2 separate regions of the Homo sapiens genome follow, and region 1 is linked to region 2. The links come from fine-mapping of genetic effects on gene expression. Tissue or cell type: whole blood. Region 2 holds a variant in brackets; the other region holds the start of a gene. All regions are shown on one strand. Distances are from middle to middle.

Region 1 (8,100 bases), 140 kb after region 2:
CTGCAGATGGATGTGTACTGCTTCCTCTTCACGGATCTGCTGTTGGTGACCAAAGCAGTGAAGAAGGCAGAGAGGACCAGGGTCATCAGGCCACCCCTGCTCGTGGACAAGATTGTGTGCCGGGAGCTACGGGACCCTGGTAAGGAGCCCTGGTCCCCTGTTCCTGGTCAGGGGCTGTGATGGGTGGGGGCCATCGTCTCTGCTGACACTGACTTGGGCCTTCCCTAACCAGGGTCCTTCCTCCTTATCTACCTGAATGAGTTTCACAGTGCTGTAGGGGCCTACACGTTCCAGGCCAGTGGCCAGGCCTTGTGCCGTGGCTGGGTGGACACCATTTACAATGCCCAGGTGAGTGCAGAGTAGTGAGTGGGTGGGCAAGGCAGATTAGGGAGATGCTGGTCACAACCCATTCTGTCCCATGTACCCCAACCTTGCCTGCAGAACCAGCTGCAACAGCTGCGTGCACAGGAGCCCCCAGGCAGTCAGCAGCCCCTGCAGAGCCTGGAAGAGGAGGAGGATGAGCAGGAGGAGGAAGAGGAGGAGGAGGAGGAGGAGGAGGAAGGCGAGGACAGTGGCACTTCAGCTGCCAGCTCCCCTACCATCATGCGGAAAAGCAGCGGCAGCCCCGACTCTCAGCACTGGTACGTCTGCTCATGACCACCCAGCAGGTCAAACCAGGACAAGTACTCTAGCCCAGGACTCCTGAAGGCCCAGCCACGCTCCCTTCCTCCCAATGGCCTCTTGTCATGAACACTGTGGGAGCGGGGCTCTGTCTCCCCCAGAGTCCGGGTGGGGAGGGCAGACACCTTTCCATGTGCTGCCAGCCCTGATCCATTCGTGGTAGCTGCCTGGGGTGCTGTGCTGAGGATCCTTAGGGCAGATCCAGCCTTGGCAGGGAAGAGTGCTGGGCTCGCTACTGAGGTCTGTTGTGGGCACTGGAGCTGGAAGATCTGCCACACCTGCCACATGCTGCCATCTCTGAGCCTCCAGCCCCAGGAGGGCAGAGGGTATAAACCACCGTGCATTGCCCAGCCTGGGGCTGCCTCAGGCCATCTAGGTTTCATGGCCTGGGCTGACTCTGCTCCTGGCCCCACAGTGCCTCAGATGGCTCCACGGAGACCCTGGCCATGGTTGTGGTAGAGCCTGGGGACACGCTGTCCTCCCCCGAGTTCGACAGCGGTCCTTTCAGCTCCCAGTCTGATGAGACCTCTCTCAGCACCACTGCCTCATCTGCCACGCCCACCAGTGAGCTGCTGCCCCTGGGTCCGGTGGACGGCCGCTCCTGCTCCATGGACTCTGCCTACGGCACCCTCTCCCCAACCTCCTTACAAGACTTTGTGGCCCCAGGCCCAATGGCAGAGCTAGTGCCTCGGGCCCCAGAGTCCCCACGAGTTCCTTCCCCTCCACCCTCGCCCCGTCTCCGCCGCCGCACCCCTGTCCAGCTGTTGAGCTGCCCGCCCCACCTGCTCAAGTCTAAGTCCGAGGCCAGCCTCCTCCAGCTGCTGGCAGGGGCTGGCACCCATGGGACACCCTCTGCCCCCAGCCGCAGCCTGTCAGAGCTCTGCCTGGCTGTTCCAGCCCCAGGTATTAGGACTCAGGGCTCCCCTCAGGAAGCTGGGCCCAGCTGGGATTGCCGAGGGGCCCCTAGCCCTGGCAGCGGTCCTGGGCTAGTCGGCTGCCTGGCCGGGGAACCTGCAGGCTCCCACAGGAAGAGGTGTGGAGACCTGCCCTCGGGGGCCTCTCCCAGGGTCCAGCCTGAGCCCCCACCAGGGGTCTCTGCCCAGCACAGGAAGCTGACCCTGGCCCAGCTCTACCGAATCAGGACCACCCTGCTGCTTAACTCCACGCTCACTGCCTCGTGAGTGGCCTGGACTGGGGTAGGGCAGGTGGCTCAGGGCACTGGCATGGGGGCCCACTCATGCCTGGGAGCATCGCATTTGGGGAGGGTCATGGCGGAGGGAGCCTGAACCCTGCCCAGTGTCTGGGCGCAGGGGGCTGTGGTGGGCAGCAGTGAAGGGGCCTGAGGAGTGCCGTGGGGAAGAGAGGGTGACCAGAGCCACTCTGAATGGCGTCAGCCAAAGAAGGACTCTGTCCCCTCCCCACCCTGTAGGGAGGTCTGAGCAGAGGGAGGCCCCCAAGAGTGCCATTGACCAAGAGACAGCAGACAGCCTGCCTCCTGGGGCGTGCCGGCACCTGCTTCAGCTACTGCCTCCTGTATGCATGAGCCGGATGCTGGGCAGGATCCCTGCCTACGCCCGGGCCCGATTTGCGCTTTGCCGGACTGGATGGAGTGGAGGAGGCCCAGGCCACAGTACCACCCCACCTGCCCAGGCAGCCCCTCGTCACCTACTCCCCGAAGTTACCAGCTCAGCTCGAGTCTTCAGGGCTGGGCTCCTAGGCTGCCCATCCTACTTCTACCCTCACTGGCCTCCAGTGGGATTCACTCCTGCCCTGCCCCCACCTTCCCAGTCCCACAGGCCACCCCTGGCTTGGGCTGGGTTCTGTGAAGTTACGTATTTATTGAGCTTTTGGTTCTTTTATAAAGACTTGTCTAGACTCCACTGGGAAGAGTCCTTTGCTTTGGGGCCCAGTGACTCGGGGCACTTGAGTTCAGGGCGGCCTCCTTGTGTTCCTGTGCTCCTCCACTTGCCACGGATGGGCCACGGATGGAGCTTGCCATGGGAAGCACTGGGAAGTAATGGGGTGTGGGGTGCCACCAGACCAACACCCCCAGACTTCCCCACCTTCAGCCACCATCAGAGCCTCTCCCCAGGTGCCCCCCGGGGATTCAGGGCTGAATCTGCCCAGTTCCCACACTCAGGCCAGCCCTCTTGGGAAGGTGGGTCCTCCATGGGGGTCCCTTCAGGAACTTTTTTTTTTTTTTTAATACAGAGTCTCACTCTGTCACCTAGGTTGGAGTGCAGTGGTGTGATGTCGGCTCACTGCAACCTCTGCCTCCCGGGTTCAAACGATTCTCCTGCCCCAGCCACTCTAGTAGCTGGAACTGCAGGTGTGCACCACCACGCCGGGCTAGTTTTTGTATTTTAAGTAGAGACGGCATTTCACCATATTGGTCAGGCTGGTCTCGAACTCCTGACCCCAAGTGTTCCGCCCGCCTCTGCCTCCCATAGTGCTAGAATTACAGGCCTGAGCTACTGCGCTTGGCCCCTTGCGGTACTTTTGGCCCAACCTCCTCCATGGCTGGGGACGCGGAGGCCGAGAGAGAAGTCACTTGCCCTGGCTCTACCTTGAAGTGGTTCTCAGGGTTGGGGCGAGAGTCGGGGTGGGGACCGAGATGCAGCTCTATCCTGTGCCCCTGGTCGCAGCAGGCAGCCCAGCGCTTCGCGTGTTCTACTTGGCCTGTCCGCTGCCGCCTAATGAGCTCAGGTCTAGGCCGAGCAGAGGGGGCACCTGGTCGGACTCGGTTGGGCTCGGGCGGCCCCGCCTCCCCCCGCCCGCCAGGCGGGCCCTTCTCGACGGCGCGGGGCGGGCCCTGCGGGCGCGGGGCTGAAGGCGGAACCACGACGGGCAGAGAGCACGGAGCCGGGAAGCCCCTGGGCGCCCGTCGGAGGGCTATGGAGCAGCGGCCGCGGGGCTGCGCGGCGGTGGCGGCGGTGAGTTGAGACGCAGGAGGCTAGGGGCAGCTTTGAGCCCTGTCCCAAGAGCCTCGGTGAAGGAAGGGGCCCCGGGCGCGTCTCCACTCCAAGCCTCACTGGGGGCTGGGTTGGCCGCCCTTTCCGATCTCGTTAAAGGCTCCTCCAGGGCGTAGCCCTTCCACTGAGAGGAAACCCCTCCCAGGAGGGTCTGGGGGCCCCAGGCAGAGCATTATCAGTGTCCCTCCCCCAACAGAAAGCATGGGTGGGGGTGGGGGCGCTGCTGGATTCCTGCTCTGGTGGAGGGGAAACTTGTGAGGGGCTGGTAAGCGCCCCCTCCGAAGCCTGGTGTGTGCGCGGGGGGAAGGAAGTTAGTTTCCTCTCCACCCATGGGCACCCCTTCTGCCCGGGGCCTGGGAAGTGGGCTGCTCTGTGGGCAAATGCTGGGGCCTCTGAAATGGAGGAGACGCAGCAGGGAGAGGCCCCACGTGGGCAGCTGCGCTGAGAGTCAGCAGCACCTGTCCCCCAGGCGCTCCTCCTGGTGCTGCTGGGGGCCCGGGCCCAGGGCGGCACTCGTAGCCCCAGGTGTGACTGTGCCGGTGACTTCCACAAGAAGATTGGTCTGTTTTGTTGCAGAGGCTGCCCAGCGGGTAAGTGGCCACAGGGGTGGGAGAGGCATGGGGCAGGCAGGGCTGGAGAGGTGGCGGGCAGGCCCGGGAGGTAAGAGGAGGCTGGCAGGGGAGGTAGGGGTAGGCTGACAGAGAAGTAGGGAGCTGGAGAGAAAGAGGGAGGGAGGGCAGGGTGGGAAGCAGGTCGGGGGTTGCTGGGCAGCCCCTCTGCCTGCCTGACCCCTGCCTGGTTCCACAGGGCACTACCTGAAGGCCCCTTGCACGGAGCCCTGCGGCAACTCCACCTGCCTTGTGTGTCCCCAAGACACCTTCTTGGCCTGGGAGAACCACCATAATTCTGAATGTGCCCGCTGCCAGGCCTGTGATGAGCAGGGTGAGGGGCTTCTCAGTGCTTGGCAGGGAGTTCCTAAGGACAGGCCTTTCTGAAGGAAGTGGCTGGCTCGGGCCCAAACTTGGGGTGTGAGGGTCCTGCACCCACCCTTGCCAGAACCCTCCACCCTGATCCTCCTTCAGGGTGCCCTTGCCCCTTCTCTCTTCCTGGTGACCTTCCCATCTCTCCATGTGCCTTGGCCTCTGGTCGGCCTTAATCTCTGAGCTTCTCTCTTTTTTAGGGTAGCCCTGTACCTGTCTGTCTTTCGCCTATTTCTGTCTCCATTATCTTGGGATAATGCCTCTGCCTCTCCATGGGAGCCTTTGGCCCTGACTAACTCTCCACTCCCCATCTCCCTGCACCCCCACCAGCCTCCCAGGTGGCGCTGGAGAACTGTTCAGCAGTGGCCGACACCCGCTGTGGCTGTAAGCCAGGCTGGTTTGTGGAGTGCCAGGTCAGCCAATGTGTCAGCAGTTCACCCTTCTACTGCCAACCATGCCTAGACTGCGGGGCCCTGCACCGCCACACACGGCTACTCTGTGAGTACCCCCACCCAGGGCTCTCTACTCCCAGACCCCCTTCTCCCTGCCTGACCCACTCCTGTCCCATGGTGACGCATGCCTCTCCTGGATTGCAGGTTCCCGCAGAGATACTGACTGTGGGACCTGCCTGCCTGGCTTCTATGAACATGGCGATGGCTGCGTGTCCTGCCCCACGTAATTCCTAGCTGTCGTGGGATGGAGGGAAGGGCGGCTGGGAGCAGAGCAGGGGCCTGGGGTGGGGCAGGTGCTGCTGGTTCAGGAATAGGAAGAGGGGATAGGGAGGAGGGAGCCTTGGCCCTGTGATGGGTGGGCCCCACTTCAGGCAAACTTAGATGGCAAAAGAGCAATCTGGATCCGCCTTAGCCAGATACATAAGGGTATTTGCCTTCACTTTCAGCCAGCATTCCCCCCAGCGATCCTAGCCAGATATTACAGATGATTTGTCACTTACACAGAGAGTCACATTGATATAGCTTTAAAACTTGGGCTGAAGGAGGTTGAGGCTGCAGTGAGCTATGATCGTGCCACTGCACTTCAGCCTGGGCAACAGAGCGAGACCTATTAAATAAATAAATAAATATTAAATCTATTAAATATTAAATATTAAATCTATTAAATAAATAAATACAAAGGGCTGAGAGTCAGGACTGTGCTGCTAGTTCTCTAGGGGATCTTGGGCAAGTGCAGAGAATTCGCGTCTCTGATGTGTGGTGTCCCTTTCTCAACATGGGATGTTAGCAGCTAATTCACAGGCCTTTGATCAGAGGTAAGGGACTTTCTGTAGCTATTCAAGTCTTTTTTTTTTTTTTTTTTTTTTTTTTTTGAGATGGAGACTTGCTCTGTCACCCAGGCTGGAGTGCAGTGGCACGATCTTGGCTCACTACAACCTCTGCTGCCTGGGTTCAAGTGATTCTCCTGCCTCAGCCTCCCAAGTAGCTGGGACTACAGGAGCCCACCACCACCCCCGGCTAATTTTTTGTATTTTTAGTAGAGACGGGGTTTCACCGTGTTAGCCAAGATGGTCTTGATCACCTGACCTCGTGATCCACCCGCCTTGGCCTCCCAAAGTGCTGGGATTACAGGCATGAGCCACCGCGCCCGGCCTCCATTCAAGTCTTTATTGAATATCTGCTATGTTCTACACACTGTTCTAGGTGCTGGGGATGCAACAGGGGACAAAATAGGCAAAATCCCTGTCCTTTTGGGGTTGACATTCTAGTGACTCTTCATGTAGTCTAGAAGAAGCTCAGTGAATAGTGTCTGTGGTTGTTACCAGGGACACAATGACAGGAACATTCTTGGGTAGAGTGAGAGGCCTGGGGAGGGAAGGGTCTCTAGGATGGAGCAGATGCTGGGCAGTCTTAGGGAGCCCCTCCTGGCATGCACCCCCTCATCCCTCAGGCCACCCCCGTCCCTTGCAGGAGCACCCTGGGGAGCTGTCCAGAGCGCTGTGCCGCTGTCTGTGGCTGGAGGCAGAGTAGGTGGTGTGCTGGGAATGCGAGTGGGAGAACTGGGATGGACCGAGGGGAGGCGGGTGAGGAGGGGGGCAACCACCCAACACCCACCAGCTGCTTTCAGTGTTCTGGGTCCAGGTGCTCCTGGCTGGCCTTGTGGTCCCCCTCCTGCTTGGGGCCACCCTGACCTACACATACCGCCACTGCTGGCCTCACAAGCCCCTGGTTACTGGTAAGTACACACACCCACACACGCACCCAGAAGCCTGGGGTCAGGATGGGTAGCCCAGAGTCTACTCAACCCTGATACAGAAGGGGAAACTGAGGCAGGGAGTGTGGGGTGCAGAGGAACCCTAGAGGAGCTGTACCAGCACCCAGGTCCAGGAGGCTTGCCTGGTGGCTGACCGCAATCTCTCTGTGTCTGTCAGCAGATGAAGCTGGGATGGAGGCTCTGACCCCACCACCGGTAAGAACCTCACTGTGTGATTCTGGGCTGCCTTCTGGAGCTGGAAGATCAAGCCTTACTATGATCCCTGGAGCTTGGCACGCGGCCAGCACCGGGTAGCCCTAGTGGACAGAGGTGTTGGGAGCAGAGTCATCAGTGGATGAGACCAGCACAGTGCCTGCCCTCAAGGGGTGCTCAGTCAGCTGGAGTTCAGATTCGTACACAGGAGCTAACAGTTCAATGGAAGGAGAGCCCCATGGTGCTGGGGGACAAGAGGAAGGAGGCGGGGGCAGGGGACTCAAGGCAGAAGCAAGAGTTCTGCTGGGCTACAGTGAGAGCAGGGCCAACTGTGGGAGGTGTCATTGCGGGGGTGTCTGCTGACTGAACCAGGGACTGTCCCCTCCTGGAGAGGCACTGCGGGTAAGGGGCCTTACTTGGCAAGCAGGGCTGACCTGGGGCCCCTCTTGGCTTCCAGGCCACCCATCTGTCACCCTTGGACAGCGCCCACACCCTTCTAGCACCTCCTGACAGCAGTGAGAAGATCTGCACCGTCCAGTTGGTGGGTAACAGCTGGACCCCTGGCTACCCCGAGACCCAGGAGGCGCTCTGCCCGCAGGTGACATGGTCCTGGGACCAGTTGCCCAGCAGAGCTCTTGGTAAGGGACATCAGTGGCCTGAGGCCTTGACCCCATTCTCCTGTCTGCGGTGGGAAGTTGTGGTTTCACAACGTGTTCCCTTTCTGCCCCCTAACTGACGGAGTCCGCCCTATGCCCTGACCCACCGGATCCAGCGGGCTTCAGCCCTGGGGTACCCGCACGAACGCCCCTGACTCTGCCTCCCGACCGCGGCCCACGTACCCCAATTGGCTCTCTCTGGCCCTGCCCCAGGCCCCGCTGCTGCGCCCACACTCTCGCCAGAGTCCCCAGCCGGCTCGCCAGCCATGATGCTGCAGCCGGGCCCGCAGCTCTACGACGTGATGGACGCGGTCCCAGCGCGGCGCTGGAAGGAGTTCGTGCGCACGCTGGGGCTGCGCGAGGCAGAGATCGAAGCCGTGGAGGTGGAGATCG
Region 2 (8,100 bases):
GGCTGTTCTGGAACTCCTGGGCTCAAGGGATCCTCCCACCCAGGCCTCCCAAATTGTAGAGTTTACAGTCCTGAGCTATCTTGCCTGCCTGGAGTGAATACCCACTCTGAGCAAAAGTTATCACTTGAGTCTGAAAATCTGTCCCCTGACTCAATCCATGTTTGGGATTTTCCTTCCTTGATGTAACCAAGTAGTCCAATATAGGCCTGTGAATTCTAAGCTCAGTTTTGTCAACAAGTCCATTATTCTGAGTAGGTCCTTCATTTCCAATTTGAGAGTTTATTCTTCTTTCTTTTTTGAGACAGTTTCACTCTTGTTGCCCCTGCTGGAGTACAGTGGTGTGATCCTGGTTCACCACAACCTCTATCTCCCGGGTTCAAGCGATTCTCCTGCCTCAGCCTCCTGAGAGCTGGGATTACAGGCATGCGCCACAACACCCGGCTAATTTTTTGTATTTTTAGTAGAGACGGGGTTTCACCATGTTGGACAGGCTGGTCTTGAACTCTTGGCCTCATGTGATCTGCCTGTCTCAGCCTCCCAAAGTGCTGGGATTACAGGCATAAGCCACCGCACCCAGATATTTATTGAATATGTTTTTAGTAAACAGTAATTTTTAGTACATAGATATGACCTGTACCTTCCTGCTACTCCAGTGAAAGAGAAAACTTCAAGAAAAAGGACCTCTTTTGTCTTTCCATTTCCCTTAGAAATACAGCCCTTTGGAGGAAATTTAGACATTAATGTTTAGCATCCTTTCCCTAAATTCAGAAAAAGGACTATACCACTTGTAGTTGACCCAAACGATCTCATAATATGTAGCTGTGGAGTAATAAAGTTGATTTTCTCACGCCTGTAATCCCAGCACTTTGGGAGGCCGAGGCGGGCGAATCACGAGGTCAAGAGATCAAGACCATCCTGTCCAACATGTTGAAACCCTGTCTGTACTAAAAATACAAAAATTATCTGGGTGTGGTGGCACGCATCTGTAGTCCCAGCTACTCCGGAGGCTGAGGCAGGAGAATGGCGTGAACCCGGAAGGCAGAGGTTGCAGTGAGCGGAGATCATGCCACTGCACTGCAGCCTGGCGACAGAGTCAGACTCCGTCTCAAAAAACACAGTTGATTTTCTGTGACAGGATTAGGTTTGTTCAGTATCTCCCGTTTTTTTCATAGGTGTATTGTACTACTCCTGGGCTGCAGGGGGCGAATCTGAAATTCCTTGATTAGTTCAAGAACATTCACCACAGTAGCCAGATCCTTGGAGTCTATGATTCTTTGTTTTCTGCTAAAAACAAAAAACAAACTAATTATACCAACTGCTGAATACTAATTCTCAGATGATTATAGTTACTTAGGAGAGGAGGAAAAAAGCCAACGTTAGCACAGGTTGCAACAAGTTAAAAATACTAAGAATACCATGGTTTCCCGGTAAGTAACTTGAGAATGTGGTTATTTTAATTGAGTTACCAAATATAGCTTCACCTTCCTAAATCTCAGCAGCTACACTGCATCCACTTGAGGGAACATACAAGAAAGCTTTCTGTCTCCCATTTTAGCTCTGTGCTTTAGTGCAGGTGTGAGCATAACCAAAGGTTTGCTTTTCAAATGTTTCAGCTTTTTGTTCAGCTTAATAGTTTTTGTTTTTGTTTTTCTGAGACGGAGTCTTGCTCTGTCACCCAGGCTTGAGTGCAGTGGCGCGATCTGGGCTCACTGAAACCTCTGCTTCCCGGGTTCTAGAGATTCTCCTGCCTCAGCCTCCCAAGTAGCTGGGATTACAGGCGCGTGCCACCGCGCCCGGTAAATTTTTATTTATTTATTTTTTATTTATTTATTTATTTATTTTTTAATTTTTTTTTTTTTTTTGAGACGGAGTCTTGCTCTGTCGCCAGGCTGGAGTGCAGTAGGGTGATCTCGGCTCACTGCAACCTCTGCCACCCCCGTTCAATCAATTCCGCTGTCTCAGCCTCCCGAGTAGCTGGGACTAGAGGCGCACGCCACCACGCCCAACTAATTTTTTGTATTTTAGTAGAGACAGGGTTTCACCATGTTGGCCAAGATGGTCTCCATCTTCTGACCTTGTGATCTGCCCATTTTGGCCTCCCAAAGTGCTGGGATTACAGGTGTGAGCCACGGCACCCAGCCTAATTTTTTATATTTTTAGTAGAGACAGAGTTTCACCATGTTGGCCAGGCTAGTCTCAAACTCCTGACCTCAGGTGATCTGACTGCCTCGGCCTCCCAAAGTGCTGGGATTACAGGCCTGAGCCACTGCGCCCAGCCTTTTTTTTTTTTTTTTTTTTTAGCCCGGAGTGCAGTGGTTCGAACACGGCTCACTATAGTCACTGCACCCTAGGCCTCCTGGGCTCAGGTGATCCCCCTGCCTCAGCCTTCCTAGTAGCTGGGACTACAGGCATGCACCAGCATATCCAGCTTATTTTGTTTTTTGTTTTTGTTTTTTGTTTTTTTGAGGCGGAGTCTTGCTGTGTCGCCCAGGCTGGAGTGCAGTGGCACGATCTCGGCTCACTGCAAGCTCCGCCTTCTGGGTTCATGCCATTGTCCTGCCTCAGCCTCCCGACTAGCTGGGACCACAGGCGCCCGCCACCACGCCCGGCTAATTTTTTATTTTTTTAGAAAGATGGGGTTTCACTGCGTTAGCCAGGATGGTCTTGATCTCCTGACCTCGTGATCTGCCCTCCTCGGCCTCCCAAAGTGCTGGTTGTTTTTGTATTTTTTGTAGAGAAGGGATTTCACCACATGGCCCAGGCTGATCTTGAACTCCTGGTCTCAAACGATCTCCCCACCTCGGCCTCCCAGAGTGCTGGGATTATGGGCATGAGCCACCACGCCCAGCCCAGTATATTCTTAGGAATTCTTTTTACCCTCTGTTTTCTGCCTTGCTCACTTCCGTTTCCAGGAGATGGGAAAAAAGTGAAAATTCCACAAAATCTTCTTTTCAGCTTTTAGTAACTTGAAAACTGTATGAATATGTGTGTGAATCATTTGAAATCATTAATAATTTATAGACCATATATTGTCAGTGTTTCACACAGTGAATCTGACCTACAGATAGAAGAATCAAATGAGTTTCTTGAGTTCATACTGGTAGAATACAAAGGTAATAGCTAAGCTGGACATGGTGGCTTACACCTGTAACCCCAGCACTTTGGGAGGTCGAGGCAGGTGGATCACGAGGTCAGGAGTTAGAGACCAGCCTTGCCAACACAGTGACACATCGTCTCTACTAAATATAAAAATTAGCTGGGCATGGTGGCGCACACCTGTAGTCCCAGCTACTTGGGAGGCTGAGGTAGAAGAATCGCTTGAACCTGGGAGGCAGAGGTTGTGGTGAGCCGAAATTGCGCCACTGCACTCCAGCCTGGGCAACAGAGCAAGACTCTGTCTCCAAAAAAGAAAAAAGAAAGTTAATAGCTAAAGGCTGGGGTGCTGTGGCTCACGCCTGTAATCACAGAACACTGGGAGGCCAAGGGAGATGGATCATTTGAGGTCAGGAGTTGGAGACTAGCGTGGCCAACATGGCAAAACCACATCTCTACCAAAAAAATACAAAAATTAGCCAGGCATGGTGACAGGTGCCTGTAATCCCACCTACTCTCCTGAGGCAGGAGAATGGCTTGAACACGGGAGGTGGAGGTTGCAGTGAGCCGAGATCATGCTACTGCACTCCAGTCTGGGGAATAGAGCAAGACTCTGTTTCAAAAAAAAAAGATAATAACTAATACTATATGTCAAACACTGTTTAAATGTTTTTACTTACCCTATCTCATTTACATATGTAAATGCATTTAATAAATAGAGAATAGCGCAACATTCCTTAAAGAAAAAATGTTTAGATTGGGCACAATGGCTCATGCCTGTAATCCCAGCGGAAGCTGAGGTAGGCAGATCACCTGAGGTCAGGAGTTCAAGACCAGCCTGGCCAACATGGTGAAATGCCATCTCTACAAAAAATAGAAAAATTAGCCAGGTGTTGTGGTGCGTGCCTGTGATCCTAGCTACTCGAGAGGCTGAGGCAGGAGAATCACTGGAACTCAGGAGGCGGAGGTTGCAGTGAGCTGAGGTTGCGCCACTGTACTCCAACCTAGGCGACACAGGGAGACTTCGTCTCAAAAGAAAAAAAAAAAGGAGTTATATATGGTAAGTGCATTATACCTTAGAAAACCTGGAATCTGAAAAAATCAGAGTGTATGATATGATACAAGAAAAGGCACAATAGCTGTGGACGTAATCAAGGCTAAGGAGTGTGTTCCTAAATATTCTTAAAGAAAAAAAAAGAATAACAGCTGCTCTTTTTTTTTTTTTTTTGAGACGGAGTCTTGCTCTGTCCTCCATGCTTGAGTCCCATGATCTCAGCTCATTGTGACCTCCGCCTCCTGGGTTAAAGCGATTCTCCTGCCTCAGCCTCTGGAGTAGCTGGGATTATAGATGTGCACCACCGCGCTTGGCTAATTTTTGTATTTTTAGTAGAGATGGAGTTTCACCACGTTGGCCAGGCTGTAAACAGCCACTTTTAAAATGACCTTAGGGTCTGGCATGGTGGCTGATGCCTGTAATCTCAGCACTTTGGCTCAGCACCAAGACTGGAGGATTGCTTGAGTCCAGGAGTTTAAGACCAACCTGGGTAACACAGCGAAACCCCGTCTCTACAAAAAATTTAAAAAATTAACCAAGCGTGTTGGCTCACGCCTGTAGTCCCAGCTCCTGGGGAGGCTGAGGTAGGAGGATCACCTGAGCCTGGGAGGCAGAGGTTGCAGTTA[G/A]CTGAGATTGTGCCACTGCACTCCAGCCTGGGCAACAGAGGGAGATCCTGTCTCAATAAAAAAGGTAACATGGCCAGACCAGGTGGCTCATGCCTGTAATCCCAGCACTTTGGGAGGCCGAGGCGGGTGGATCATCTGAGGTCAGGAGTTTGAGACCAGCCTGACCAACATGGAGAAACCCCATCTTTACTAAAAATACAAAATTAGCCAAGAGTGGTGGTGCATGCCTGTAATCCCAGCCACTCAGGAAGGCTGAGGCAGGAGAATTGCTTTAACCCGGGAGGCAGAGGTTGCGGTGAGCCGAGATCGCGCCACTGCACTGCAGCCTGGGTGACACAGCGAGACTCTGTCTCAAGAAAAAAAAGGTAACGTAATTTTAGTCACCTCTTGCTCTGTCTGCCTTAAATTAGAATTTAAATACCAAAATTAAGTTGTTTTTTAAAATAATAACTATTTGTTAAATCACATCACACATTAAATCACTTTTTAATTTGTAGCCTCAGAATGTTCAGGTAAATCACATTATCTTAAATTGCTTAGGCAATGGCCATTTTTGTAATTTTAATTTTTTTTTTTTTGAGATGAAGTCTCACTCTGTCGCCCAGGCTGGAGTGCAGTAGCGTGATCTCAGCTCATTGTAACCTCCTCCTCCCGGGTTCAAGCTTGAAGTGTTTGAACCTGGAGGCAGAGGTTGCAGTGAGCTCAGATCGTGCCAGTGCACTACAGAGTGAGACTCCGTCTCAAAAAACAAACAACATGTCATCTAGGTGGTTATGTTCATTTTGTTTTTGCTTGCCTGCATTCTCTTTCTGTACTACACGTACATTATCTGTTAATGTTAATTTAAGTTCAAAGTAAAATTAAGAATTCATATCTTGAGAAAAGAAGTATTTCATTGATAACCGGGGCCTACCAGGCATGTGAAACCATGTATATATATAGATAATTCAACAAAGGAATGTGGTGAGAAAAGAAAGGAACCGATTTAGACCTATCAGCTGTGTTAGGAATTTTGAATAACCTACTAACCCAGGCATGCTATTTAGCTCTTTCTTTTTTTCAGGGGTGGGGCAGGCAGAGTGGGAGCAGTGGAACAATGACAGCTCACTGTCATCTGGGCTTATGTGATCTTCCCACTTCAGCCTCCCAAGTAGCTGAGACTAAAGGTGCATGCCACCACGCCTGGCCAATTTGAAAACTTTTTGTTGAGACAAAATATTGGGTCCCACTATGTTGCCCAGGCTGGTCTCAAACTCCTGGCCTCAAGAAATCTTGCCCCAGCCTCAGCCTCCGCGTAGCTGGGATTACAGGCGTGCGCCACAGCACCCAGCTAATTATAATTGTTTTATTTTTAGTAGAGACAGGGTTTCGCCATATTGGCCAGGCTGGTCTCGAACTCGCTACCTCAGGTGATCCACCCACCTCGGCCTCCCAAAGTGCTGGGATTACAGGCGTGAGCCACGGCGCCTGGCCGAAAATGTTAACTTAATAAATTTTTTTAGGCATATGAATACATATAAATCAATTTGGGTCATACAATGAGTAATCTGATTTTTCGCTTTATAGCTCAAACATCTTTCCATTTCAATAAATACATCATTATTCTTCAAGGCTACATAGTAAGACTGAAATATGATGTTTAAAAATCCCTGTTATTGGGAATACAGAAAAACCGTACTCAATCCTCAACTATGGAAACATTATTGATTTAATCACTGGACTTACGCAAGATGGGTAAGCTGACCCAGGGGACGGGAGTTCTTTTCCCTACAAACATTCCACTTCCTGGCTACTCAGCCTTTCTTGTCACAAAGCCTGTGCAAGGAAGCTATTGGCCCTGCTCCTGGGCCCAGGAATGCTGCCGCTGCCTTGAATAGCTGTGTGAACAGTCCTTCTATGGGCAACAGGCGGCCCGCCTGGGTACCTGAATGTTTTCTGATTTGGGCCTGTGCTGCCCATGCTCACCCTGAAATTCAGACCAGATGCATTCTTATGGCAAAATGACGTGAAACTCTTAAGTAGAAGAGAAAGCCTGCGGTTCTCATTTCAGAGGTGGAATAAAAACAAAATGTCTTCTGGAAACGCTACGCGGCCCTAGACCTCGCTGGAACCAGGAAATGATAGCCAGCTCCCATGCGCGTGGCCTGCTCTGGGACCCACGTGGGCGGGCGCCTTCCTCAGGAATGCGTTCTCAAAGGCCCACCGGTGTAGGGGGGCTGGAAAACAGCACAAACCCAAGTGTTCTCTGCAAAGCAGCAGTCCTGGTGGTGAAATAGGGGTCTTTTCTAAAACTGAGCAAAGCCTACCTTCCACTGAGGAAAAAATGGCCTCCAAGGGAGGGCTCTTTTTCCCCTACAAGTGACATTCAAAGTGGTGCTGTGTCTATCGGAACTAAAATAAGGGCGATTCCTTCTTTCACCATTCCCCACCGCAGTACAAGTGACGGCGGGACTGTGCTTAGTGGCGTCATCTAGTTTCAAGGCGGTCTCCTATCTGACTTTGAGCCCTCGCTCTTTATACCCAGTTACCCTCTCGTGGAGTCCGAGCAGCTGCTTCAGGGAGGCCCGGGAGCCCCTAGGGCGGGCAGCCCCGGAGCCTGCAGCTGCGACGCAGACTCGGAAACTACAACTGCGCGTGAAGCCGACTAAAGTTAACGCCTGTGTGATTGAGTCAGAAGCTCCTTCAGGAACACAGGAGTGGGGCCGACTCCTGGAATCCGGCCCCGGGTCGCTTATAAATGCGCCAAGAAAAAAACGTCACCGAAAAACTTTATACGCGTTCTTGCTTTGGTCCAGAATGGTAAAAAGCCTATCCTTTGAGTGTGTCCCGTGATGGGGTTAACTAGCAACCCTTGAAACTAGTGGAACTCAAAAGCAAAACAAAAAGCCATTGTACCCAGCCGCCCCGGGACCTGGGCCGGCGCCCTTGGGAAGTCTGGCGTGAAAGGAGGGGTGGCTTTGGTTTCAGGGCCGAGCTCGCCTCTCCCGGGTTGGGTTCAGCAGCCGGGCCGGGTGGGTCGTGGGCAACCCCGGGAGGCCCCCGGTCCCGGCGCGCGGCGAGGCCGCCCTCGGACCTGGCACTTGTCACTCGCTGTCCCCGGCCCGGGCGTCAGCGGGGAGACGCAGAAGGGCGGAGGGAGGGAGCCGGCCGCGGACAGCGGTGACTCAGCCTGCGGAGCCGGGGGCGGGCGCCGCGCGGGGGACAGGCGAGCCCGCGCTCGCGGGGGGCGGTGGCGCCCGGCACAGAGGGGTTAAGGGGGCGGTGCAGACGTCTCCCCGCCCATCCCGCCCCTCGAGAGCCGCGGCGCCCCGCCCTATTTATAGCAGC

Evidence for each region. PIP is the estimated chance that this variant, and not a neighbour inherited with it, causes the effect.
Region 1: TNFRSF25 starts here. The variant in region 2 is fine-mapped to the expression of TNFRSF25 in whole blood (INTERVAL, PIP above 0.99).

The regions. Positions count from the first base shown.
Region 1 is chr1:6,461,583-6,469,682 of GRCh38, reverse strand. TNFRSF25 (TNF receptor superfamily member 25) reads left to right here and starts at 3,510. Exons shown (of 10, transcript NM_003790.3): 1 at 3,510-3,614; 2 at 4,123-4,243; 3 at 4,461-4,595; 4 at 4,964-5,131; 5 at 5,230-5,308; 6 at 6,556-6,611; 7 at 6,713-6,820; 8 at 7,017-7,054; 9 at 7,509-7,689; 10 at 7,921-8,100. The coding sequence starts at 3,576. It overlaps PLEKHG5 (pleckstrin homology and RhoGEF domain containing G5), which reads left to right. Exons shown (of 21, transcript NM_020631.6): 17 at 7-139; 18 at 233-348; 19 at 442-641; 20 at 1,097-1,858; 21 at 2,111-2,561. The coding sequence ends at 2,120. RefSeq lists an enhancer at 2,741-3,689.
Region 2 is chr1:6,602,887-6,610,986 of GRCh38, reverse strand. It overlaps LOC107984913 (a long non-coding RNA gene), which reads left to right. Exons shown (of 2, transcript XR_001737882.3): 2 at 6,340-7,540. Among named protein-coding and RNA genes, the nearest start is that of KLHL21, 4.1 kb to the right of the region's middle. RefSeq lists silencers at 6,400-6,748, 7,713-8,100 and enhancers at 7,163-7,312, 7,353-7,512, 7,533-7,622. The variant G/A (reference allele first, on the strand shown) is at 4,774.